Linked DNA regions of Homo sapiens: all the other regions are linked to region 1. Evidence: fine-mapped expression QTL. Tissue or cell type: whole blood. Region 1 holds a variant in brackets; each other region holds the start of a gene. All regions are shown on one strand. Distances are between the middles of the regions.

What was found. PIP is the estimated chance that this variant, and not a neighbour inherited with it, causes the effect.
Region 2: it holds the start of TBC1D2B, and the variant in region 1 is fine-mapped to the expression of TBC1D2B in whole blood (TOPMed, PIP above 0.99).
Region 3: it holds the start of CIB2, and the variant in region 1 is fine-mapped to the expression of CIB2 in whole blood (TOPMed, PIP 0.91).

What each region holds. Positions count from the first base shown.
Region 1 is chr15:77,951,556-77,959,659 of GRCh38, reverse strand. No RefSeq gene overlaps it. Among named protein-coding and RNA genes, the nearest start is that of TBC1D2B, 120 kb to the left of the region's middle. RefSeq lists a silencer at 1-253 and an enhancer at 7,511-8,011. The variant C/G (reference allele first, on the strand shown) is at 4,690.
Region 2 is chr15:78,073,734-78,081,837 of GRCh38, reverse strand. It overlaps TBC1D2B (TBC1 domain family member 2B), which reads left to right and starts at 4,127. Exons shown (of 13, transcript NM_144572.2): 1 at 4,127-4,545. The coding sequence starts at 4,186. RefSeq lists silencers at 3,842-3,891, 4,042-4,251, 4,452-4,651.
Region 3 is chr15:78,127,014-78,135,117 of GRCh38, reverse strand. It overlaps CIB2 (calcium and integrin binding family member 2), which reads left to right and starts at 3,673. Exons shown (of 6, transcript NM_006383.4): 1 at 3,673-3,953. The coding sequence starts at 3,903. RefSeq lists a silencer at 3,449-3,968.

The DNA of each region.
Region 1 (8,104 bases):
GCGGTGTGCACCACCTCTGCCTCGCCCTACCCCACCCTGCCCGAGTCTCCAGGAAGGCTGGAACAGAACCCTCGGTTCCCGCGCGGCTCTGGTGCCACCTGCAGGTTATATGGGGGAACTGCTTCTCCCCACCCCAACCCTGGACAGACTTGGACTTGGCCAAAAGACAGAGCACGCGAAGCCCCGGCAGGGGAATGGGCTGGACCCAACAGTGAAGTTCACGTTACAGAATCAGAAGGGCCCAGCTTAAACCAACAAAGCCCAGCTCCTCCTCTTCCTACCCACTCCTGTCCTGTCTCATTTTGTAGAAGGGAAACTGAAGCCTAATTCAGATTTTTCATTGGTAGGATTGTGAAGCATACAGCTGGAGCCTCCCAGGTGCCATTCCCCACATCTCTGTCTTTCCCCTAATACGTTAGGATAGTGGGGAAGCAAGCGAGCTTAAGCTTACTAAGCTCCTACTGTGTACTGGCCAGAGTGGGCACTTTTCTCTCCAGCCTTGCAATTGATGGGAAATAGGTGATTACACAGCTAGGATACAGGATTAGAGTGGGCTAGCGATGTGCTTACAGTCTCTCAGCTGAAACTGGAACCCAGTGTGAATATGTCAGTCTAAATGGAGAGCTCTATGCATGTTCCTCTCTATTCCCTTTGTTACCAATACCAATTCCCAAGGCAGAGCCCCAGGAGGGCTGGCCTGAAGGACCTGGAGGTTAATAGAAAACAGCTCAAGAGTGGTGTACACGTCACTGGACTTTGGATTTCCCCTGCTGTGTTGGAGCCTGTGATTGCTTCCGGCAGTAAACTGAGGACACTGTAGGGTTCACCTTCTTTTAGGGATCATAGTTCTGCTCGACCTGTTCTCCAATGTCCGAAAACTATTGTTTTATATATGTTGTTCCATTTTTCTAGTTGTTCAAGGTGGGAGGCAAATCTGGTCCCTGTTATCAATCATGGCCACATGTAGAGGTTGCAGGATGTTGTTTATATATCTTTTTTTTTTTTTTGAGACAGGATCTCACTCTGTCACCCCAAGTGGCACCATCTCAGCTCACTGCCACCTACACTTCGTGGCCTCAAGTGATCCTCCCACCTCAGCCTCCCAAAGTGCTGGGATTACAGGTGTGAGCCACTGCGCCCAGCCTAAAATTGTATCTTTCTTATTATCAGTGAAGTTAAACATTTTTTCCTGTGTGTCAGTGGCATTTGCATTTTTCTTTGAACTTTCATATATTTTTTCAATTTTTCTTAGAATTGTTGGTCTTTGTCTTCTCTACTTTTAGAATAGAATGAATATGATATTAATCATACTTCGAATTGTGGCCATGATGGAGTACCTGAATTGATGATGGTCTCCCAGCATAAACAACTACAAAGCTGGACAAAGTACATGAAGAAATTGTCTTCAGGCATTGGGCAATAGGCAGTTCCAGGTACAAACTGAGAGAAGGGAATCACATGAAGTGACTGCTACATTTTTCTGGTGGGGAAAGTTTCCAAACCCTCAATGACAGCATGAGGAAGCAGAGTCCAAGCCAAGAGGATCAGTCTTGTTTGGTGGAGGAAACAGGGACTGCCACTCAGGGCTGCTAAAATGTGTGTGGCAGAGTATCAGAAAGGACGGAGTTGCAGAGAAGGAGCCCCAGAAATCTTATAGAGGTTGTTGCAGGTCCTTGGCCAAATCCCAAACTACGAATGTGTGGATTGAGACTCTGCAAGGCCCAGCACAGAACAGCCGATGGGGAGCTGAAAGCTAAACATCGATTTCAGTGGTCACAGAGTGCTGGGGATACACCCGAATTCTGGCTCAACCAGAGTCTCCACTCTTGGAATCTCAGGTCTTGATGAATATCCCAGACATTCACAGAGGGCCTAGAAGGCCATGCCTTGGGATTAAGGAAGATTCCCTAGGAATAAGGGCAAAACTGAAAAACAGCTCACCCTAACAAAGCCTAAAATGTAGCCTTGACACACATGATCAAGTTAACCCATCAGTAATTTAATTCCCTGCAAAACAAAACTCAACACTAGAGTAGGATAACATAATCCATATCTCTACAATGAAGGTTCACAATGTCCAACAGATCAAGAAATACTTACTAGATAAGTGAAAAAGTGAGAAAATACATCCTAAAATTAAGAGAAAACCAGTCAATACGAACAGACCCACCATGCATGGTGGCTCATGCCTGTAATCCCAGCACTTTGGGAGGCCAAGGCAAGTAGATCACTTGAGCTCAAGACTTCGAGACCAGCCTGGGCAACATGGCAAAACCTCATCTCTACTAAAAATTCAAAAATGAGTTGGGTGTGGTGGTGTGTGGGGGTCCATAACCCCCAGGCTGTGGGCTCTACCAGTCAGTGACCTGTTAGGAACCAGGCTGCGCAGCAGGAAGTGAGTGGTGGGCAGCGAGCATTACTGCCAGAGCTCCGCCCCCCATCAGATCAGCAGGCATTAGATTCTCCTAGAAGTGTGAACCCTAATGTGAACTGCACATGCGAGGGATCTAGGTTTCACACTCTTTATGAGAATCTAATGCCTGATGATCTGAAGTGGAACAGTTTCATACCGTAACCACCACCCCCAACCCCGTCTGTGGAAAAATTGTCTTCCACGAAACCAGCCAGGACTGCTGGTGGCATGTGCCTGTGGTCCCAGCTACTTGGAAGGCTGAGGTGGAAGGATGGCTTGAGCCTGGGAAGTGGAGGTTGCAGTGAGCTGAGATCATGCCACTGCACTCCAGCCTGGACAACAGAGTGAGACCTTATCTCAAAGAAACAAACAAACAAAAAGGGCCAGGCATGGTGGCTCACACCTGTAATCCCAGCACTTTGGGAGGCTGAGGCAGGCAGATCACCTGAGGTCAGGAATTCAAGACCAGCCAGGTGAGGTGGAGGTTGCAGCAAGCTGAGATGGCGCCATTGTACTCCAGCCTGGGCTACAAGAGCAAAACTCCATCTCAAAAAAAAAAAAAAAAAAAGAAAAAGAAAAAGAAAAGACCCATAAATGGCTCACACATTAGAATTATTAGGCAAGAGCTTTAAAGTAACTGTACATACATTAAAGAATTTAGAGAAATATCAACACCTGTGAAGGATGGTGAAAAAAGAATAGAGAGAAATAAGTTTTAGTATAAGTATGTCCTAAATATGCATGGTACGTACTTACTAAAAAAAAGTTGATTTTTTATCAGAAATCTAAATTCAACTGGGTGTCCTATATTTTATCTAGCATCTCTACCCCAAAGCCAAGCAGGAGAGAGTCCAGAGTCCTATCTTCCAGCAGGTGACCTAGCCTAGGACAGGGCCTGGCCAGGGGCAATTGTGCATTGGATGGGTTAGAGATGCCAGTCATTCAATGTGTCAAAGGTTTGCCAGACCTGCATAGAATCAATATTATTTTTAATATTTTTGTCTAAAGCAACTTTACAAATTTTAACCTTTTATTTGGAAATATAGATTCAGAGGAAATTTCAAAGATGGTACAGAGAGGTTTCATGTACTCTTCACTCAGCTTCCTCCAAAGGTTCTATTTTGTATAAATGTAGGACAATATCTAACAATGTCATGTCTATGCCATTTAATCACATATGTAGACTCCTTTAACCACCACTACAATCAAGACACAGAACTGTTCCACCACCATGAAAATCCCCCTCCTGCTATTCCTCTGCACTCATTCCTGGCTCTTCCCCTCCACTATTCCTACTCCTGGCAACCACTAATCTGCTTTCTGTCTTTATAATCTTTTCACTTCAAGAACATTATAAAATGCAACAATTAGCCAGGCGTGGTGGCACCAGCTTGTAGTTCCAGCTACTTGGGAGGCTGAGGCAGGAGAATCACTTGAACCTGGGAGGTGGGGGCTACAGTGACCCTACCACTGCAGTCCAGCCTGAGAGACAGGGTGAGAATCTCTCAATGAATGAATGAATGAAGGCCTGGCACGGTGGCTCACACCTATAATCCCAGCACTTTGGGAGGCTGAGGCAGGTGGAACTGTTGTGGCCTTGAGTTTGAGACCAGCCTGGCCAACATGGCAAAACCCTGTCTCTAGTAAAAATACAAAAATTAGCCAGGCATGATGGTGCGTGCCTGTACTCCCAGCTACTTGGGAGACTGAAGCATGAGAATCACTTGAACCCGGGAGGCAGAGGCTGCAGTGAATCGAGATCATGCCACTGCCCTCCAGTGTGGGCCACAGAGTGAGAGTTCATCTCAAAAACAAAATAAAACAAAACCAAAGAAGAAAAGAACATTGTATAAATGGAATCACACAGTATGTGGCCTTTTGAGACTGGCTTTTTTTTTTTTTCTACTCAGCAAATGCCCTTTGAGATCCATCCAAGTTGTGCATGTTCCTTATTGTTTTTTTCTGTTTGAGATGGTGTCTCACTCTGTCACCCAGGCTGGAATGCAGTGGCGCGATCTCAGCTCACTGCAACCTCCACCTCCTGTGTTCAAGCAATTCTCCTGCCTCAGCCTCCTGAGTAGCTGGAATTATGGGCACCCATCATCATAGCTGGCTTTTTGTTTTTTTGTTTTGGAGATGAAGTTTTGCTCTTGTTGCCCAGTGCAATGGTGTGATCTCAGCTCACTGCAACCTCTGCCTCCCAGGTTCAAGCAATTCTCCTGCCCCAGCCTCCTGAGCAGCTGGGATTACAGGTGCCCGCCACCATGTCCAGCTAA[C/G]TTTTTGTATTTTTAGTAGAGATAGGGTTACACCATGTTGGTCAGGCTGGCCTCGAACTCCTGACCTCAGGTGATCTGCCTGCCTCGGCCTCCCAAAGCACTGAGTTTACACGCATGAGCCATCATGCCTGGCTCCCTTTTTATTGTTGAATAGTATTTCATAGAATAGATGTAGCAGTTTGCTTAACCATTCACCTATTGGGGAGTATTTGGTTGTTTCCAGTTTGGGACTATTACAAATAAATCTGCCATGAACAATCATGTATGAGTTTTTGTGCAAAAATCAGTTTTATTTTCTGGTACAAATGCCCAGAAGCAATTGCTAGGTCATATATTGAGGTGTATGTTTAACTAAAGAAGCTGCCAAACTATTTTCTAGAGTGTCTGTAAAATTTTATATTCCCACCAGCGATGTATGAGAGTTAGTTTTGTCTGCATCCTCACCAATATTTGATACTATCACTATGCTTGATTTGAGCTGTTCTAATAGATCTGTAGTAATATCTTACTGTGGTTTTAATTTGCATTTCCCCAGTGGTTAGTGTTGAAGATCTATTCCTGTGCTTTAAGTCAACTCATTTTTAAAACCTAAATAAATGTATTTAAAAAGGAAACTTTTGCTTTAGGAGGCCAAGGCAGGTGAATTGCTTGAGTCCAGGAGTTTGAGACCAGCCTGAGCAACATGGTGAAACTCCGTCTCTACAAAAAACAAAAAAAATCCAGCGTGGAGGCATGCACCTGTGGTTTCAGCTACTCAAGAAGTGAGGCAGGAGGATTGCTTGAGCCTGGGAGGTCAAGGCTGCAGTGAGCTGTGATTGCATCATTATACTCCAGCCTGGGTGACAGAGCAAAACCCTGCCTTAAATAAATAAATGAATAAAAGGAAACTTGTGGTTAGTGGTTCTCAGAGTGTGGTCCCTGAGCCAGCAGCATCAGCATCCCCATCAGCTGAGAACTTGTTAGAAATGCAGATTCTCAGGCGCCACCCCAGACCTCCTGAATCAGAACCTCTGAGGCGTGGGTTCAGCGACCTGTGGTTTAACACGCCCTCCCGGTGAGAATCGGTCTCATTCACTACAGATAGAAGGAAATGGTAAAAATCAATTCATCCGCATATCGCCTAAAATCCTCCTGTGGGCCCCAGGTTGGCACAGCACACTTTTGGGCAGGAGCCCCACTCACAGAGGCCGTGACAAGAATGCTCCTGCCCCTGGGGTTGTGCAGTGACAGCTCACACAGCTCCACGTGGCGGTTCTGAGTTTGGGAAGCGCTGATGTAGTCCTACTGCAGCCCTTCCTGCCCTTCACCGGACTGAGGAAATCCAGGCTCTGAGGAGGGCGAGACTTGCCCAAGGTCACCCAGCAACATGGTCAGTCTCCTTTCCCAGGGCCCTCACAATGCGTGGCCTGTTTAAAGCCTGCCTCTATTCACTGCTGAGTGAAAAATCCAGCTCCAAAGTAGAATATGGGGAAGGATACTATCTTGTGCAGCTTATGTTTATAGCTGCAGATACATGAGAAAAAAAGTCTGAAAATACTGTTGAAGTAGTTACTTGGGGAGAGAAGGGGTTTGCTGGTTTTTGTGTTTTTAGCTTTTATATTTCACAATTTTTATCACAATGTTTAGTTACATAATCAAAATTTATTAAATGTTAAAAATTGACATGAAGCCTGATCCAGCCACAGCCTATCATTGGCAGAGCCAGGAAGCCTTCCAGATACAGCAGCCCTGCACCTGCCCCCGGTCACACCCTGGGCCTGGGCACATGCTAGGTCCTCTGTCTGGACACCCTCACCCCCTGGTGGCCTCCACGTCAGTACCCACCAGCACCTCCTGTGGGCGAGGGCCGCCCCTGCATCCAGCCCTGGGCACCCCCTAGCCCAGAGGGCACCTCATGGTGTGAGAGTCCACCTGCCTGTCTCTAAAGAGAGGAAAGCTCCTTGGGACATGTGTTCTGCTTGACCCATCACCTCTGGCCTGGTACAGAAAGGTGGACAGTGGGTATTTGGTGAATAAATGAATGAATGATTGGAACGAACCCCCTAAATGGTGATTTCCTGAGGCCCTTCTCCAGCTGGCCCAGGTGGAACCAGTTCCACGTTTCACAGGAAAGCCAGGTGTGAGGAGTGGGGCAGGTGTGTGTGAGGGGCCAGGTTCTTGAAGGCTGCATGGAAACGGAGCTGGTGGCAGGTCTGGGGGTGGCAGTGCTGCTGTAGGAGCCTCAGGGAGGGCTCATCCCTGGAATCCCCCAGGGTATCCTAGTGCCCCCAGCTGCTGCATGGCATGAGAATTCCTGGCTGGTGGGGGACACACAAGGACTTGTTTGGATTGGCCACCTGGTCCAGCCCAAGGAGCTGCGCCTCCAGCACCTTGGGGGAAAAAAAGCACTTTTGATGTGTGACAACAGCTGCAGGCAAGGGGAGGGAGAGGTGTGCTGGGCCTCGGCCTTAGAAGCCAGAAGCCAGTTCATGCCCCTACTTGGTCTACGTGGGAAAGGGATGTGGCCTCGGCTAGCTCTAGGGTCCTGGGTTATGGAAAGGGCCCTTCCTTATGGACCCAGTGACTTAGGCTGACCCAGCCCCTCCCTGAGCCTCATCAGTGAAACCAGGGCTGGGCCAGGGCTCTCAACACCTCCCAGCTCCAACCTCTGGCTTTGTCCCAGGAGGGCAGGAGATCAGACAGAGGTGACCCGGGCTCCCTATTTACCTCAACCTCCTTGTGAAGCCTCCCTCTTTCTGCCTGTGAGGTGGGTGGGGCTGGAAAGAGGGGCATTCACCTGTGGGTCTCTGACTTCTCTGCCCAGGTGTGCCTGGGGAGTCTGGTCTATACCCGGTGCTCTGCTATACCCCACAGCCTGGTCACAACCTCCCTGCCTCCAGAGCAGCCCTGGCCCAGGGAAGAAGCGGGTCTCTGCATCCAATGATAGGTAGAAAATGAACGTGGGGATGATAGCACTGGAAAGGAGTCAAGGAGGAGGTGCCTTCCCAAGGATGTGGAGGGTTTTTCCAGAATGGAACTTGACTGGGGTGGGCAAACATCAGGAGGTGGGAAGGGTGGCTCCCTCTGTGGGAGCTGGGGCAACTTGCCTGGGCCAAATGGTGGTAGGCTGTGGGTGTAGGGTGGGCAGAGCTGGGGTGCCCAGAGCCTGGGGTCCCTGTCCTTGCAGAGGACTGGAATGCAAAACAAGTGCCCCCTGCCTTCTGGCTGCGGGACATCCTCTGCTTCCAAGCCCAGACATACACCTGCTGCCACAAGCCCCTGAGGCTCTTCAGAGGACCAATGGGCAGCCACACCCATGCTGGGCCAGCCTGCTGGGCCCACCTGCACCCTGGTCAGAGCCCATGACTGAGGGGACTCTCTGGGGGCAATGGGGGCAGTCCCATGCTGCCCTCTTACAGGTGGATCAGTCCCTGGG
Region 2 (8,104 bases), 120 kb before region 1:
ACTGGGGACTCAGGCCTGTGTCTGTGCAGCCTCCTCAGAGGGCCATATTCTGGACCCGGCCAGACCGAGGCAGGGGCCAGGCCAGTTTATCCCCTAATATACTAAAAAGCTCAGTGCCTGGGCCTGCCTGCTTGAGAGGCCTGTGAAATGTTTGTGGCCTAAGAAAAATGTATTGGCTCTAAAACCCAAGAAAAACAGCAAAATTAGAATTAATGAACATCTAATTAAATGTCTACAAATGTAACATGTCACCTTTATAGTCATCATAAAAATGTCATAACAGAGCTGGGCACCTTGGCTCATGCCTTAATCCCAGCACTCTGGGAGGCCAAGGTGGGAGGATCACTTGAGACCAGGAGTTTGAGACCAGCCTGGGCAACATAGCAGAGACCTATCTCTACAAAAAATACAAAAATTAGCTGAGCGTGGTGCTGCGCACACCTGTGGTTCCAGCTACTCAGGAGGCTGAGGTGGGAGGATTGCCTGAGCCCAGGAGGGGGAGGTTGCAGTGAGTTGAGGTAGCGTCACCGCACTCCAGCCTGGGTGACACAATGAGACCCATCTCCAAAAAAAAAAAAAAAAAAAAGGTCATTACATTTGAGAACAATTTCTAGGTTAGGTTTCTCTCACTTGGCCAAAATTCCCACACAGACACGATGATTGCCAAGAAATCAGCCAATTAAAAATGAAAATGAAAACTCATAATTAGATAATATCAAGAGCACAATTATGGATATTCCTGAAAACATTTTCATAGCAAAAATTATGTATATGTTTACTACGGGATGTAGAGCATTTTAATATGTTTGATATGATGTCAGGTGTGGCCTCCAGAAGGAAGAGGGCAGTGGCTTACAAGCATTTTATTTATTTTTATTATTATTATTATTTTGAGACAGAGCCTTGCTCTGTTACCCAGGCTGGAGTGCAGTGGCACGATCTTGGTTCACTGCAACCTCCTCCTCCCAGACTCAAGCGATTCTCCTGCCTCGGCCTCCTGAGTAGCTGGGATTACAGGCACGTGCCACCGTGCCTGGCTCATTTTTGTATTTTTAGTAGAGATTGGTTTTCACCATGTTGCCCAGGCAGGTCTCAAACTCCTGACCTTGTGATCTGCCCTCCTTGGCCTCCCAAAGTGCTGGGATTACAGGCGTGAGCCACCACACTCAGCCCTGCAAGCATTTTAAAATGGCCCCAGCTCATCTGTGCTGGGTGACCAGGGAAGGATTGGAGGCTCAGGTGTAGGGGAGTCAGGCTGAAGTCCAGCTTGCCCACTGAGGGGCACAGACAGCAGGTACGGTTCTGCATGCCAGGCCCTGGCGGATACAGCAGTGAACAAACCAATCATTCTCCTACCCTCGTGGAGATTATATTCTAGTAAGGCAGGGAGGTGACACACAAGAAAGCAGATAAAAGTAATGTGTGCTATGTTGTATAAATGCCGTGATGACATGTAGATGATTACCGCTTAAAACAGCACCCCTGTCCCGTCCCATCTGCCTAGCCCTGGCCAGCCAGCCCAGACTCTTAGTCCAGGAGGGGGGCTCGTGGCTTGTGCCTGTGAAGGATGCCTTCCTCGGGCCTAGCAGACATCGGCCCCCGTGAGACACCTCATGGGGCTTGGTCCTGTCCACTGGGACCACAGGTCATGGCCACCCCCACTTCCTTATAACTTACTGATAGATCTAGGAGAGATGGGCTACACCCTCCCCTGTCCTGTTGCCTCCCTGTACCATGGCAATACAGACCGGGTTCTCCCAGCTCTTCCCTTTCCCACAGTATTTCAAGGTCAGACCTCACCCTGACTGCCTACCCCACAAGCCAATTAGTCACAGCCCCTTTTACATACATGGTGAGGCCCAAATTGAACTTGGGACCCCTTGCTCCCGAGAGCAGCCCACTCCACTCCCGCAGCACCGCAGTGTCTGGCCTCCCTTGTCTGGGCCCGGTCTGACTGTTGGATTCCCCCTCTCCGAATCTGCTGACTGATGAGGAAGACATCGGTGTTAACTGCAAGATGATAATAATAACAGCTGATATGTGCTGAGTGCTTACTATGTGTGAGGCACCGTGCTAAGCACTTTCATATGCATTTCTCACGTAACCCTTTCAATAACAACAGCACGAGATAGCTACTTGTATTTATCAACCCTGTTTTATAAATGAAGAGACTGAGGCCCAGAGAGGTTAAATCACTTGCCCAAGGTCATGCCTCTGGTAAGTGGCAGAGCTAGGAGACACATCTGGTCAGTGTGAAGTCAGAGCCCAGTCCTTAACACTGTGCTGATTGTGCTCAAAGACAGGTGGAGAGGTCAGCCACACCTCTGATGGGCCCCAGGAAAGGAATGCTTGCGTGGTGCCACTTTAGGGCCTGCAGAGAGTCGGCAGGCTGGGTGAGGACCCAGAACCTGCCCTTCCTACCTGGGTGGCTCCAAACAGGCAGTCTAATTTGTGTCCCTGTCCAGCTCAGAAAGGTCAGTTTTCCACCTGGGTCTTTCAGTGTGTCTGTATAAAACATGCAAATCTATGAGGGTGAGATATTTGGTTTGGGCTTTCACAAATGTAGCTATGTAGCTATACACTTCCTTTTTCCTTTGAATAAAGTGAGCTCTTGTACTCACTATTCCCTCTCCCTGGAATGCTTCACCCACATTTCTGGTTGCCCCTGTCCCTCCCATCATCTGGGTTTGTGCTCCATGTCACAGGATCAGACCAGCCTCCTTGCCTGTCCTGGGGCAGCAGCCTGCTATCTGCCCCCCATCACTTCATCCTCTCACTTTGCTTTTTACTTATTTTTTATTCTTGTGGGAACATAGTAGGTGTATATATTTATGGGTTACATGAGATATTTTAATACAGGCATGCAATGCATAATAATCAAATCAGGGTAAGTAAGGTATCCATCACCTCAAGCATTTATCCTTTGTGTTACAAACAATCCTATTATACTTTTTTTTTTCTTTTTAGACAGAGTTTTGCTCTTGTTGCCCAGGCTGGAGTGCAATGGCGCAACCTCGGCTCACTGCAACCTCCACCTCCGGGGTTCAAGAGATTCTCTTGCTTCAGCCTCCCGAGTAGCTGGGATTACAGGCATGCACCACCACGCCCAGCTAATTTTGTATTTTTAGTAGAGACAGGGTTTCTTCATGTTGGTCAGGCTGGTCTCGAACTCCCGACCTCAGGTGATCCACCCACCTCGGCCTCCCAAACTGCTGGGATTACAGGCGTGAACCACCGCGTCTGTATTATACTCTTTTGGTTATTTTTAAACGTACAATTATATTATTTTTGACTGTAGTCACCCTGTTGTGCTAGCAAATACTTGGTCTTATTCATTCTTTCTCTTTGCTTTATTACAAAGCAATAGATTTGCCTTCTCAGGTTGTGAGTGTTCAAATAAGTTAGTCTATAAAGCACTGATAAATACTAGGTGCTATTTTAAGCGGTAATCATTTACATGTCATCACGGCATTTATACAACATAGCACACATTACTTTTATCTGCTTTCTTGTGTGTCACCTCCCTGCCTTACTAGAATATAACCTCCACGAGGGCAGGAGAATGATTGGTTTGTTCACTGCTGTATCCGCCAGGGCCTGGCATACAGAACCGTACCCGGCATTCAGAAGGCGCTCAATAAATATATGTTGAATTCAATAAATGAACTGAGGTCTGGAGAGGCAGGAAACGCTTTGGCTTTCATGAATTCTGCAAATATTTACTGAGCACCCACTCAGCACCAGGCAATAGGCTGTCTCATTTTTACAATATTAGCTTGAGACTCTGGCAGGAGGGAGATTTAAATATCAAGTTTTTAGAATAAGATACACAGTGTGAAATGCAGTTTTAAGCGGACACTCCGCTGGGTTTTGAGAGATGCACACTCCCATGTACCTACACTGCCATAAAGAAATAGACCATTGCTTCATCCGGCAGGGCGAGGACTTGGAGCCCAGGTGGCACGAAGGCAACTGACCCGCGGGGTGCTGGTCGCAGGACCCTGCCTCCGGGGGCTGAGGGGGCAACGGCCGGCGGGCGGGCGGGGGCGAGACTACAAGTCCCAGGGTGCTTTGCGCGCCCGCGGGCCGTGCGGAGCGAAGGGGCGGTGCGGAGGGGGTAGGGGGCGCAGCGGCCGCGGCGCGGAGGCGCAGGGCGCGGGCGCCTACGGTTGGCGCGCGGTAGCGATGCCGGGGGCCGGAGCCCGGGCGGAGGAGGGCGGCGGCGGCGGCGAGGGCGCGGCGCAGGGGGCGGCCGCGGAGCCCGGGGCGGGTCCGGCGCGGGAGCCAGCGCGGCTGTGTGGCTATCTGCAGAAGCTGTCGGGCAAGGGCCCCCTGCGTGGCTACCGCAGCCGCTGGTTCGTGTTCGACGCGCGCCGCTGCTACCTTTACTATTTCAAGAGTCCGCAGGACGCGCTGCCCCTCGGCCACTTGGACATCGCGGACGCCTGCTTCAGCTACCAGGGCCCCGACGAGGCGGCGGAGCCGGGCACGGAGCCGCCCGCGCACTTCCAGGTGCACAGCGCGGGAGCCGTCACGGTGCTCAAGGTGGGACCGCTCGCCCCAAAGCCGCCCGCGCGCTTCCGCCGGCGTCCCCTGCCTCCGCCACTGGCTTGCGCCATCCACCCTCCTTCCTCCAAGGCCTCCTCGCCCCTGCCCACGTCGGCCTGCCTTTCCCTGCTTCTCCACATCCCGCCCTCGTTCCTATCTCCTCCCCACTATCTGGGCTTAGGCCAGTCTCGCTGGGGCTACCAAGCCCCGTCTCCTTTCTCAGACACCTTGACCCATTATCTCCCTCTGCGCCTAACCTCGGGCCAGTCTCTGGTGTCTCCCGACCCCCACCATCCCGTGGATGTCCTGTGCAGCCTTCCCAGGCATCCGTGAGCGTAGGCTTCTACCCCTGGGGCCTCCTTTAGAACTTTGCCTATGGCCTTGGTACCTCAGTGAACCGCTCTGGGCTGCAGCGGCCTCCTCTGTAAAATGGGATAACAGTAGTATCTACCTCATGGGGTGTTGGGATTAAATGAATTATACTTTAAACTGCTCAGTAAATGTCAGTGCTTTTATTTATTTGTTTATTTATTCTTTTTGAGACAGGATCTTGTTCTGTTGTCCAGGCTGGAGTGCAGGGGTGCGATCTCGGCTCACTGCAGCCTCCATGCCTGGGCTCAAGAGATCCTCCCACCTCAGCCTCCCAAGTAGCTGGGACCACAGGTGCGGGCCACCACGCCTGGCTAATTAAATTTTTTTTTTTTTTTAAAGAAACGGGGGTCTCACTATGTTGCCCAGGCTAGTCTCGAACTCCTGGGCCGAAACCATCCTCCCCATCCAGCTTCCCAAAGTGCTGGGATGCCAGGCGTGAGCCAGAGTGCATTTAGCACTGTAGACAGAAAGAGTCAGATGGCAGGGCCCTTAGAGACAGTCCACTACATTTTCCTCCAGAGTGGACGGGGATGCTCCAGCTAAGGTCACACAGCCAGTAGGTGGCAGATCCTGTGTTCTTCCTCCTTGCTTTGTCCAGGATGGGTGGGAGGGGGTCTTTTCAGCCAGTTATGCCTTGCTCCTTTGAGGCTCCCTTAATCCTCCAGTGGACAGACAAAATGAGAGATACAGTGTAGAAGCAGGAGAGTAGAGTCAGGAGTCCTGGTGCTGAAAGGCCTCCCCTGTCCTTGGGAGTTCTGGGGGACTAGACTGTCACCTCCTAGGGGCCCACCTGCTTTGAGCATCTGGAGGGATCTGGGCCCAGGCCTGGAGCTGGGTATCCTTTTTCCAGGCTTTGCTCCCTGCCTGGTTTCTGTGAGTCTCCACCCTCACTCTCACTCCTCTTCCGTATTCCAGGTTGGGCTTTCTCCAGAGCAACAGGGTTGGGCTGGGATGTATGAAAGTGCTCTCAAAGCTGGCCACACGGAGAGCAGACTAGGCAAACTCCTGGCCTTGTGAGCTGAGGACTGTTCCTCAGACCCCCAGAGCTGCTAACAGCTGGAGCTGCTCCCTGGAGATGTTCTTAGAGCTTTGCTGACTCAGCTTTTGCCAGTTCAAGCAGGATCTGATTCCCATGTTCTCTTGGGCTCCCCTGTCCTGTCTGTAAGTGGGTGCAGACAGCCTGTTTCCCCAAAGAAAACCAACTCGGGTTGCAGTCCTACACAGGCTTACTTAGAGAGTGCCTGTATAAACTTGGTAATGACCCTAGTGGGAGACCTTTGCCAAAGGCAGAGGCTCTTCCTCAGTGTACATACGGGCTGTCCCTGTGTCGGACGAATTTCCTGTGGGATGTTTGTTAAAGAAAATAGAGCATCGTGTTTCACATTTTTCCCAGATGACTGTAGAACTCTATCAGTTTTTTTCATTAAAATAATCTGAATCTCCTGTAATCCCAGCACTTTGGGAGGCCGAGACGGGTGGATCACGAGGTCAGGAGCTCGAGACCATCCTGGCTAACACGGTGACACCCCATGTCTATTAAATATACAAAAAATTAGCCAGGCATGGTGGCGGGTGCCTGTAGTCCCAGTTATTCGGGAGGCTGAGGCAGGAGAATGGCGTGAACCCGGGAGGAAGAGCTTGCAGTGAGCAGAGATCGCGCCACTGCACTCAGCCTGGGTGACAGAGTGAGACTCCATCTCAAAAAAAATTAAAAAAAAAATAATAAATAAGAATCTACATAAGCAGGGTTACAAGGCGCATTGTCAGAAGTGTGGCTTTAAACTTCGATGGACTTGAACTTGAAGCAGGAGTCTGCTGCTCACACATATTGGACAAATTACACCAGTTCCCTGCTCCAGTTTCCTCTTTGGTCTAGTGGGAATCATACCTTCCTCATTAGGTGGCTGTGAGGATTCTGGAGAATGTTATGGAAAATGGCTGGCGCATTTTCCATAGTGGTATGGAAAATAGTAGGCACTACATGGCATATGAAACATCAAGCAGTGTCTTTGGCCAAATATGTAGTGTATTCATATAGTGGAATATTATGCAGTAGTAAACAAAGGTACTAGAGCTATAGGTGTCAACGTGGATTACTCTCACAAACAATAAAATTGAACAAGAAGTAAGTTACACACTGATTGTGTTCAGAATGATACCACTTATAGAAAGGTTAGGAAGATCATGTGAAACAGTACTACAGATCATAAGGATGTATGCTCTTTCGCGAGGGGAAGAGCTTTATGGGGCTGATGAGCTCTGGTTTCCAGGTAGTGGTTGCCTGTGATGGGAAGAGGGAGGATGTGATTGGGAATGGGTGCCTCAGGGCTTCTCCTGTTTTGCAGTGTTTTATTTCTTGGACTGGGTCATAGGTATATCAGTGTTTGTCCTATTATGCTATCCATCTTTTTGTAGGTTCAGAATATTTCTTTTTTTAAAGAAAGGAAATACATTTTCCTTTGGGTTACTGACAATGGAGGAATATTTTGACATGTAAAATTAAATTGGTCACAGAATAAGATAGTACCGAGTGTTGGCTGTATACAACAATGGGAATGGAAATCAGGCAAGGCTTTCTGGAAGAAGGGAGGAGAAGGCCGGGCGTGGTGGCTCATGCCTGTAATCCCAGCACTTTGGGAGGCCGAGGCGAGTGGATCACTTGAGGTCAGGAGTTCGAGACCAGCCTGGCCAATATGGTGAAACCCCATCTCTACTAAAAATACAAAAATTGGCTGGGCATGGTGGCGCACGCTGTAGTCCCAGCTGCTCGCGAGGCTGAGGCAGGAGAATTGCATGAACCCGGGAGGCGGAGGTTGCAGTGAGCCGAGATCACACCACTGCACTCCAGCCTGAGCGACAGAGTGAGACTCCACCTTAAAAACAAACAAACAAACAAACAAACAAGCAAAAAACACCCCGACTCTAAAACCCTGCTCCCTTTTTTTTTTTGAAACAGAGTCTTGCTGTGTCGCCCAGGCTGGAGTGCAGTGGCACAGTCTCTGCTAACTGCAACCTCTGGCTCCCGGGTTCAAGCAATTCTCCTGCCTCAGCCTTCCGAGCTGAGGGACTATAGGCGCGTGCCACCGCTCCCAGCTAATTTTTGTATTTTTAGTAGAGACGGGGTTTCACCATATTGGCCAGGCTGGTCTCGAACTCCTGACCTCGTGATCCACCTGCCTCTGCC
Region 3 (8,104 bases), 180 kb before region 1:
TGAGGCAGAAGAATCACTTAAACCCGGGAGGCAGAGGTTGCAGTGAGCTGAGATCATGCCCCTGGGCGACAGAGTAAGACTGTCTCAAAAAAAAAAAAAAAAAAAAAGAAAAAAGAAAAGAAAAGAGTCAGGGCCCAGATTTAAATCTACCTGTTACCAGCTATGTGACCTTGGGCAAGTCACCTTCTCTGAAACTATTTCTTCACCTGTGAAATGGGATAATAATATGAAACTCCACAGACTGAGGAGGCTATTGTGGAATAATCAAATTCAGTAAATATAGCACATCCAGTACAATTCTGGGCACTAGATAAGTAATCAGTAATGTTTTATTCTTCTCCCTCGGCCCATCCTCCCTCCCAGCAAACACACACACTCTGCTCCTCAGGGACCACACTCAACATCAGGGAGCAGCTAAAGCACAGGATTTGGAATCAGAGAACGACGTTAGAGCTTTGCTTTGCCACTTCCCAGCTGGGGGGCATCAGGCAAGTCATTTGGCCTCTCTGAGCCCCAGGTTTCTTATCTGTAACATGGGAATTGTGTTCCTTGCCCCTCCTCACAGCATTGCTCAAGAGAGAGAGCTTCAGATAGGCCATGGTAATAATGATCCAAAAAGATTTTTTTTTTTTTTTGAGATGGAGTTTCGCTCTTGTCGCCCCGGCTGGAGTGCAATGGCACGATCTTGGCTCACAGCAACCTCTGCCTCTCGGGTTCAAGTGATCCTCCTGCCTCAGCCTCCTGAGTAGCTGGGACTACAGGCACGCCACCACGCCAGGCCAATTTTTTGTATTTTTAGCAGAGACAGGGTTTCGCCATGTTGACCAGGCTGGTCTCAAACTCCTGACCTCAGGTGATCCGTCTGTGTCGGCCTCCCAAAGTGTTGGGATTACAGGTGTGAGCCACCGCACCTGGCCTAAAAGGATTTTTGAGAGGAATTTTCTAGTTCAGTTGGTTACCTCTATTTCTCTCCTATGAGAGGAAGGGCTCCCGGGACTGAAAACACAGTCCTCTTTGTATAGGTTCCAGATTTTCTACCTGGAACACCTGGTATGCAAATAAGCAGCATGTTAGCAATTGTACAAGAATGCGCCAGAGCAGGATCTGAACACACAGAATTCTGGCTTGTTCATGCACAGTGTGGAATCTAATAAGATGGGAAGAAGGAAAACTTGTGTAATAGTGGTTATGTGGTTTCAAAAGGGTTTCCTTTTCCCCAACTCCAACACAGGAAAAAGGGGAGGTACAGAAGAGAGAATCTTTTAAATGTGCCTTCTCTGCTCTAAAATTCCACATGCTCCAAATCTCTGGGGACACATCCTGCCTTCTTTCCCATGGGTTAGGCCCCTATTGCATGTGTCCACAATGATGAAAAGATGGTGAGGTGACCCCTGAAGGCTGGTCACCAATCCCCAGGCTAATGAATTGCTTCTTACCCCTCTGATAGCAATTGATGGTGCCTCTGAAGACTCTTGTGATTTTAACAGGGTGACATGTCTGTTTAGCTGATGGCTGCTGTTCTCACCAGGGAGTGGCAAAATAAGGTTGGAAAACCCCAACCAGTAGCCTCAGATATAAAAGAAAACTAAAAGCATGAGGGATCATCTGCCAAACTTGAAGCCCTGTTCCCATCAGAACCCACAAGCTTCAGCAGCCTAAGCACTCTCAAAGTATGGTTCCAAGACCAGCTGCATCAGTGTCACCCAGGAACCCTTTCGATACCCACATTCTTAGCCACCCCAGACCTTCTAAATCAGAAAATCTAGGGGTGCAGCCTCCCAAGTAATTTTGATACATGCTCCCAGGTGGTTTCAGAACCACTATCCTAAAGTAACAAACCACGCATTTTAAAGCATAAAGTCTTGATCTCGCCCAGGCATGGTGGCTCACGCCTGTAATCCTAGTACTTTGGGAGGCCAAGGCAGAAGGATCACTTGAACCTGGGAGTTGGAGACCAGCCTGGACAACATAGTGAGACTCCATCTCTATTTTTTTTTATATATATAAATAAAAAAAAATCCTGATCTCTTCAAAGTCCACTGGCAGTTGTGGAATGGTATGTTGAGCCAGTGCCTGGGTCCAGTCCAGGTTCTACTAATTCCCAGCTGTGGGACCCTGGGCAAGTTACTGAACCTCTCTCAGCCCAACTCTTTGCCTATAATATGGAGATAATACCTACTGATTCAGTTGTCCTGAGTTTAGAAATAACAGTTGTATGGGCTGGACCCCAAAAAGATAGCGGTGACTCCATTTGGTGGATGGGGAAGGAGTTCAGAACATGCCACCACAACATATGCTGCTCTGGCATATTGAGTATTTGAGTTAAAGGCACTTGAAAAATAGCAGATGCAAGAAGGGCACTCTTGATCATCCTTCTTTTTCTAAAAAACAGGAGATGAGGCCGGGCATGATGGCTCACATCCTATAATCCCAGCACTTTGGGTGAGAAGCCAAAGTGGGTGGATTGCTCGAGCCTGGGAATTCAAAACCAGCCTGGGCAACACGGCAAAACCCCATCTCTACAAAAAAAATACAATAATTGGCCGGGCGTGGTGACTCAGGCCTCTAATCCTAGCACTTCGGGAGGCTGAGGCAGGTGGATCACCTGAGGTCAAGATTTCGAGACCAGCCCAGCCAACATGGTGAAACCTCTCTCTACTAAAAATACAAAAAAAAATTAGCTGGGTGTGGTGGCATGCCCCTGTAGTCCCACCTACTAGGGGAGGCTGAGGCAGAAGAATCGCTTGAACCCAGGAGGCGGAGGTTGTAGCGAGCCAAGATCGCGCTACTGCACTCCAGCCTGGGCGACAGAGGGAGACTCCATCTCAAAAAAAAAAAAAAGTATTTAGATTTTGCCAGTTCTCAGGGTCTTCATTTCCTTATGAGGGCTTCCACGTCATGTAAAACTTGTATTAAATCTGTTTTTCTCCCCTTAATCTGTCTTATGCCAAATTAATTCTCAAGCCCAGCCAAAGACCCTAGGAGGGCAGAGGTAAAGTCCTGCTTCCCTTACAATGGCATCTGCTTAAAAGCTCCAAAAAATGTCTTGGCCTTTGTCACACTTCTGTGGACACAGTCAAGTCCTTTAAATCCTCTCAAGTCTCACGTTTGTAACCAAGCCAAGTAAATCCTGTCCTGCTCCCTAAGGAACACAGAAGGTCTGAGATGCCCTGCCTAGGCCGCGCCCAAAGGCCAGATGGGCTTCCCGAGGCCTGGCCGGGAGGGCCTCAGATGTCAGCTTGACTGACCCCCTCCTTCTCCCCAGAGGGACAGGGCCCGGGTAAGGGCTTGACCAAGGTCGCGACGCGAGACGGTGGCGGAGCCCGGCCCCAGCTAGATCCACGCACTCACAGTCCTCGCTGCCGCCCCCGCCCCAGGTCAAGGGGCGCCACTCGCCCCACTGCCCGCCTCGAGAGGGTTTTTTCCCAGGCCCCGCACCCTCACGCCGTGCGACCTGGACTCCCACGGCGGGACCCGGGCTCACACCTCTTCCTGCTGCGGGGCGGAGTCGCCGCCGCTCCGGGTCTTTGTCCCCGCCTCCGAGACCCCCGCGCGCCCCCAGCACTTCCGGCCGCGGGAGCCAAGGGTTCGTGCCGGGCAGCGTCTCCCGGGGCCAGGTCGCCTCCTGCCGGGACCCGGGCGCGCTGCAGCCGCGGAGCCGGGTGCCCCGCCCTCTTCCCGCCGGCGGCGGAGTCGCTGCCGCTCCGGGTTCCCGTCCCCGCCTCCGAGACCCCCGCGCGCCTCCTCCAGGCGAGCTGCGGGGCGGGAAGGGTCCGGCCACCGTGGGCCGCTGCCAGCCGCGGGGCTGCCGAGGGCCGCGGGCACGGGGCGCTGGCTCCGGGTCTGGCGGCCGCTGATGGGAGTCGGAGCCCGGGCGGGCGAGCGGCGGCGCGGCGGCCACCATGGGGAACAAGCAGACCATCTTCACCGAAGAGCAGCTAGACAACTACCAGGTGAGCTCGGCGCGCCCGGCCCCCAACACAGGCCCCGCCGCCCCGCCGCCCCTCCCTTTTCTCGGTCGCTGGCCGAGGCCTCCCGAGAGCCAGCTCTCCCAGGTTCAAACCCTGCCTCTGCCTTCAGCTCGACGCGTGACCTTGGGCCGGTGACTTCCCCTCGCCGTGCCTCAGTTTCCCCACCGGTGGAATAAGAGCTCTTTCCAGTTGGAAGAACCTCTCAGGCGCGCCTCTCTCCAGCTACTCTCGCCCTAGGCAGGACCCGAACCCCTCTCCAGCCACCCATTCCAGCGCCCATCTGGCCCGGAGAGGGAGTCAGTAAACTAGGCTGGACGGAGGACCGCCCTCCCCGCTCCCTGCCCCCCAGCCCCAGGAAGGAGCCCAGGAGAGCGAGTCTCTGTAAAGCAGAAATGAGAGCTGGCGTCCTGTCTGGTCTAGGAGTGGGGTGCATCAGTCCCCACATGCAGTCTTCCCTTGGGACTGTCTTGTTTATCGGCTGGGGTTCGCTCCTTCTGACCCCAGCATGGAGATAACTGGAGCAAGAACGCAAGCCCGGTAGCAGCCTTCCAGGGCCACCTCTCCCAGCTCCCTTAGGCCCTCAGTAGCCACCTCCTTAGACCTTTCTAGGTTTTCCTGCCTCCAGAGCCAGCTTTCCAGATCTGGAATCCCAATACCGTCCCACCCAGGTAAAAACTTCGCTGTGGTTGCAGGATGAAGCCCAACCCCTTGGCTTACCCGGAGCCCTGGCCAATTGCTCAGCTTATCTCTGCAGCCTCAGTCTCCCCAGGTCCCTTCCCTGCCCTCTGCATGGCAGCCGCCTTAAAACCATTTGCAGTTGCTCCAGCTCACCAGGCTCATTCCTCCCTCCCTCTCTCCCTCTGCCCATGCCATTTCCTGGGCCTGGATGCCTTTCCCCCCTCCAGAGGATCTCTTTCACCCTTCAAGTCCCACATCTGATGCCTCTCCCCTGACTCCCCAGGCGGAGGGGGCAGGATTGTGTTGTGGCCTGTGTAACTGGGCAGGAGGAACACCAACAGGGTCTCCATAGGCACTTGTTGCCTTCATCAGTGCTTACTTTGGCTGTGAAGGAAAGCAGGTGTGAAGTGTGGGTCCTCTGATGTGGGTGAAGGTAAAACAAAGGCCCCTTCTCCTCCTAGAAGCCCTAGTTGTCAGTAATGGATTTCTCAGCTCCCCAGGTGAGGCCCTGGGAAGGAAGAGGGGAGACGCATTTATGGAGCACCTGCTGTGTACCAGGCACAGTAATTGATGCCCTCTACGCATCAACTCACTTGATCATCACAGTGAGGTGGATTATTAGCCCATTTTACAGACGTGTAAACAGAGGCTGAGGAGCCATTCAGGGCTCACACAGGATTTCGAATCTTGACTCCTAGGCTCACTTCTTTAGTTGGGAGTGGGCTGGGCTGGGCCATGTGTGCTTTTTGTTCCCAAGGCACTCAGTCTCAGACACTCAGAGACAGACTCTCACCTCCAGTGTGTGGCCCTTGTGATAGAGGCAGGTGGTGGAGTGTGTTCTAGGGAAGGGCACTAGTGGGCAGTGGGAGGCCAGCAGGGAAGGGGGACAAAGTCCAGAAACGATACAGCACTTGAGCAGGCCTTGGGAAGATAGGTCGGGTTTTGCCCAGTGGGGCCCAGAGGAGGCATTCCAGGTGGAGGGGACAGCGTGGATAAAGGCTTGGGAGTGGGCAGGGGCAAGCAGGCAAGCCATGCTCAGAAGTGAGGAGTAGCTTCATGGGGGTGGGGAGCCCAGGTTCCCACTCCAACCAGCCTGGCATTGGGTTACTCATCGGAGCCAGTCCCAGTGTTATGTTCTGATTCTTTGCCAGAGCCTAGCTAGACCCTGCCAGGCGGGGTGGGAGAAATGAGAGCTGTGAAACCTGAGAGCCCCACATCTCCTACCCTCTGGCTCTCCAGCCAGCCATTGCCAGCCCGGGCTGAGTGGGGGTGAGCCTGAGTTACAGCACCCTCTCCCCTAAGTGACACCTAGGGTTTCTTGGGACCTCCCAGCCTGGTAGTCTAACCTTTCCTGGGCAGGGTGCACCCTCTTGGTTCCCGGTGCCGGTGATTCCCAACATTTAAGCTTCTGTCCAGAACACTCCTCTGCATTGTACGGCCATCCCCCAGACCCCTCAAACTCCAAAACAGGGGTCACAGCCTCTCCAACACCCACTGCTGCTCCTCCAGCCATTTCAACTCTCTGCTCTCCCTCAGCCCATGTTTTCAGTTAAGAACAAGGCCTGTGACTCAGCCTCTTTTGTGGGTCACCTGGAGGTCCCCTCCTCCATCACGACAGCCAGGGCCCTGGGCTAGGCCTGCTCAGTCTCCTGCAAACTGGAGGTCTGACTGCTCCCTCCTGCGCCCCTCCTGCCCATCCCCCTCCAGCCACCCGCCCTCTTAGTTCTCTCACTCTTCCTTCATCTCTTTCTTTCTCTTCCTTTTTTTTTTTTTTGAGACGGAGTCTCGCTCGCCCTGTCACCCAGGCTGGAGTGCAGTGGTGTGATCTCGGCTCACTGCAACCTCCGCATCCCAGCTCCGCCTCCCAGGTTCAAGCAATTTTCCCTGCCTCAGCCTCCCAAGTAGCTGGGATTACAGGCACCCACCACCATGCCCATCTAATTTTTGTATTTTTAGTAAAAACAGGGTTTTGCCATGTTGGCCAGGCTGGTCTCAAACTCCTGACCTCAGGTGATCCACCTGCCTTGGCCTCCCAGAGTGTTGGGATTACAGGTGTGAGCCACCGCGCCGGGCCTCCAGCCTCATTTCTTACTCCCTTTCCCTTTGCACCCAAAGTTTTAGGCACACTGAAGGGCTTCTAGCCAAGCCCTCCCTCACCTCTGGCCCTTGTTCTCCTGCTGCTCTCCCTGCTCCTTTGCTAACCTAGTCTGGCCCATCTTTCTGTCCAGGCCAGGCCTCACCTCTTTGGGACGGGCTCCCTGACTCTCTCTCCACCAATCCATTCAGCTGGGAGTACTCAGGGAGCCTGACACATATACATCCCCAGTCCCTTGTGTGGCCACAGAATGGTTTATACTGGGCACCTCACTGTTTACACTCCAGCTTCCTTCTTGTATGGCCTCTGTCCAGGCACAAAAGAGATGTTTGGAGGATGTTGTCAAATGAATGAACAAATATTTGTTAAGGCGTGGCTCCAGGAGAGCAAAGAACTCTAGACAAAGATTCTGAAGCCCTAGATTCAAGTCAGCTGGGTAGTTGATGCTGTGGGCCTTAGCAAGCCACTGTTCCCTTCTGGGCCTAAGTGTCTCCACCTCTAAAATGGGAACTACTAACCCAGCTGTGCTCATGTCACAGGGTTCTTGTGGGGATCAACTAAGATCACTGGAGACTGACCTTGAGCCGTGTGATGGTCCCCTGGGCAGTGCTGAGGCCTGAGCTGGCAGAGCTGGATGGAGAGCCATTTCCATTAGAGCTGGGAGGGCCCATGGCTCGGCTCCTGACAGCTGGCACAGGCAGACCAGGCATGTAGGAGATGGGAGGCAGGTGGGTTACCTGGAACAAGTCACCCTTGAGTTGAGCTTTGGAGAAAGGGTTTGGACAACCTGGAGAAAGAGGAGAGGGCACTCCAGTTGGGGAATAGGGTGAATATAGGCTCGGAGGCAGAACTCAAGCCTTAACTGGGAAAACGTCTGGGCTTCTACTGTAAAAGCCCAGCCTGTCCTGTTTTCTGCTGCCAATGTTCTGAGAGCCCATCACTCCTGGGTTAGGCCCCCTCTCTCCTTCCCTCCCTTCCACTCCTCATGACCCAGACCTGACCTTTGCCGGAAGACCTGTCCCTGTGTCCCTGTGTACTGTCAGGAACCAAGCAGTGATGGGGCACTTGCTCTCCAAAAGTGTAAGAAAGGGTTCCTTCAGACATAGGGCTGTAGCTCCCAGGGCAGCTGAGGGTGTAGTGGTGGGCAGGGTGTTTGGTGACTCCAGAGAAGGGAAAGACAGCAGAGCTACCGACTCTGGGGAGATGCCTTTGGGACCTGGGTGGTGGATGGAGCTGTTGTACTCTTTCCTATCAGCTGGGGCCTATAGACTTCCTGTACCTTATCTCATTTGCTCTTCACACTGTCCCCTTCAGAGAGGCCTATTTCCACTTTACAGATGCAGAAACTGAGGCTCAGAAA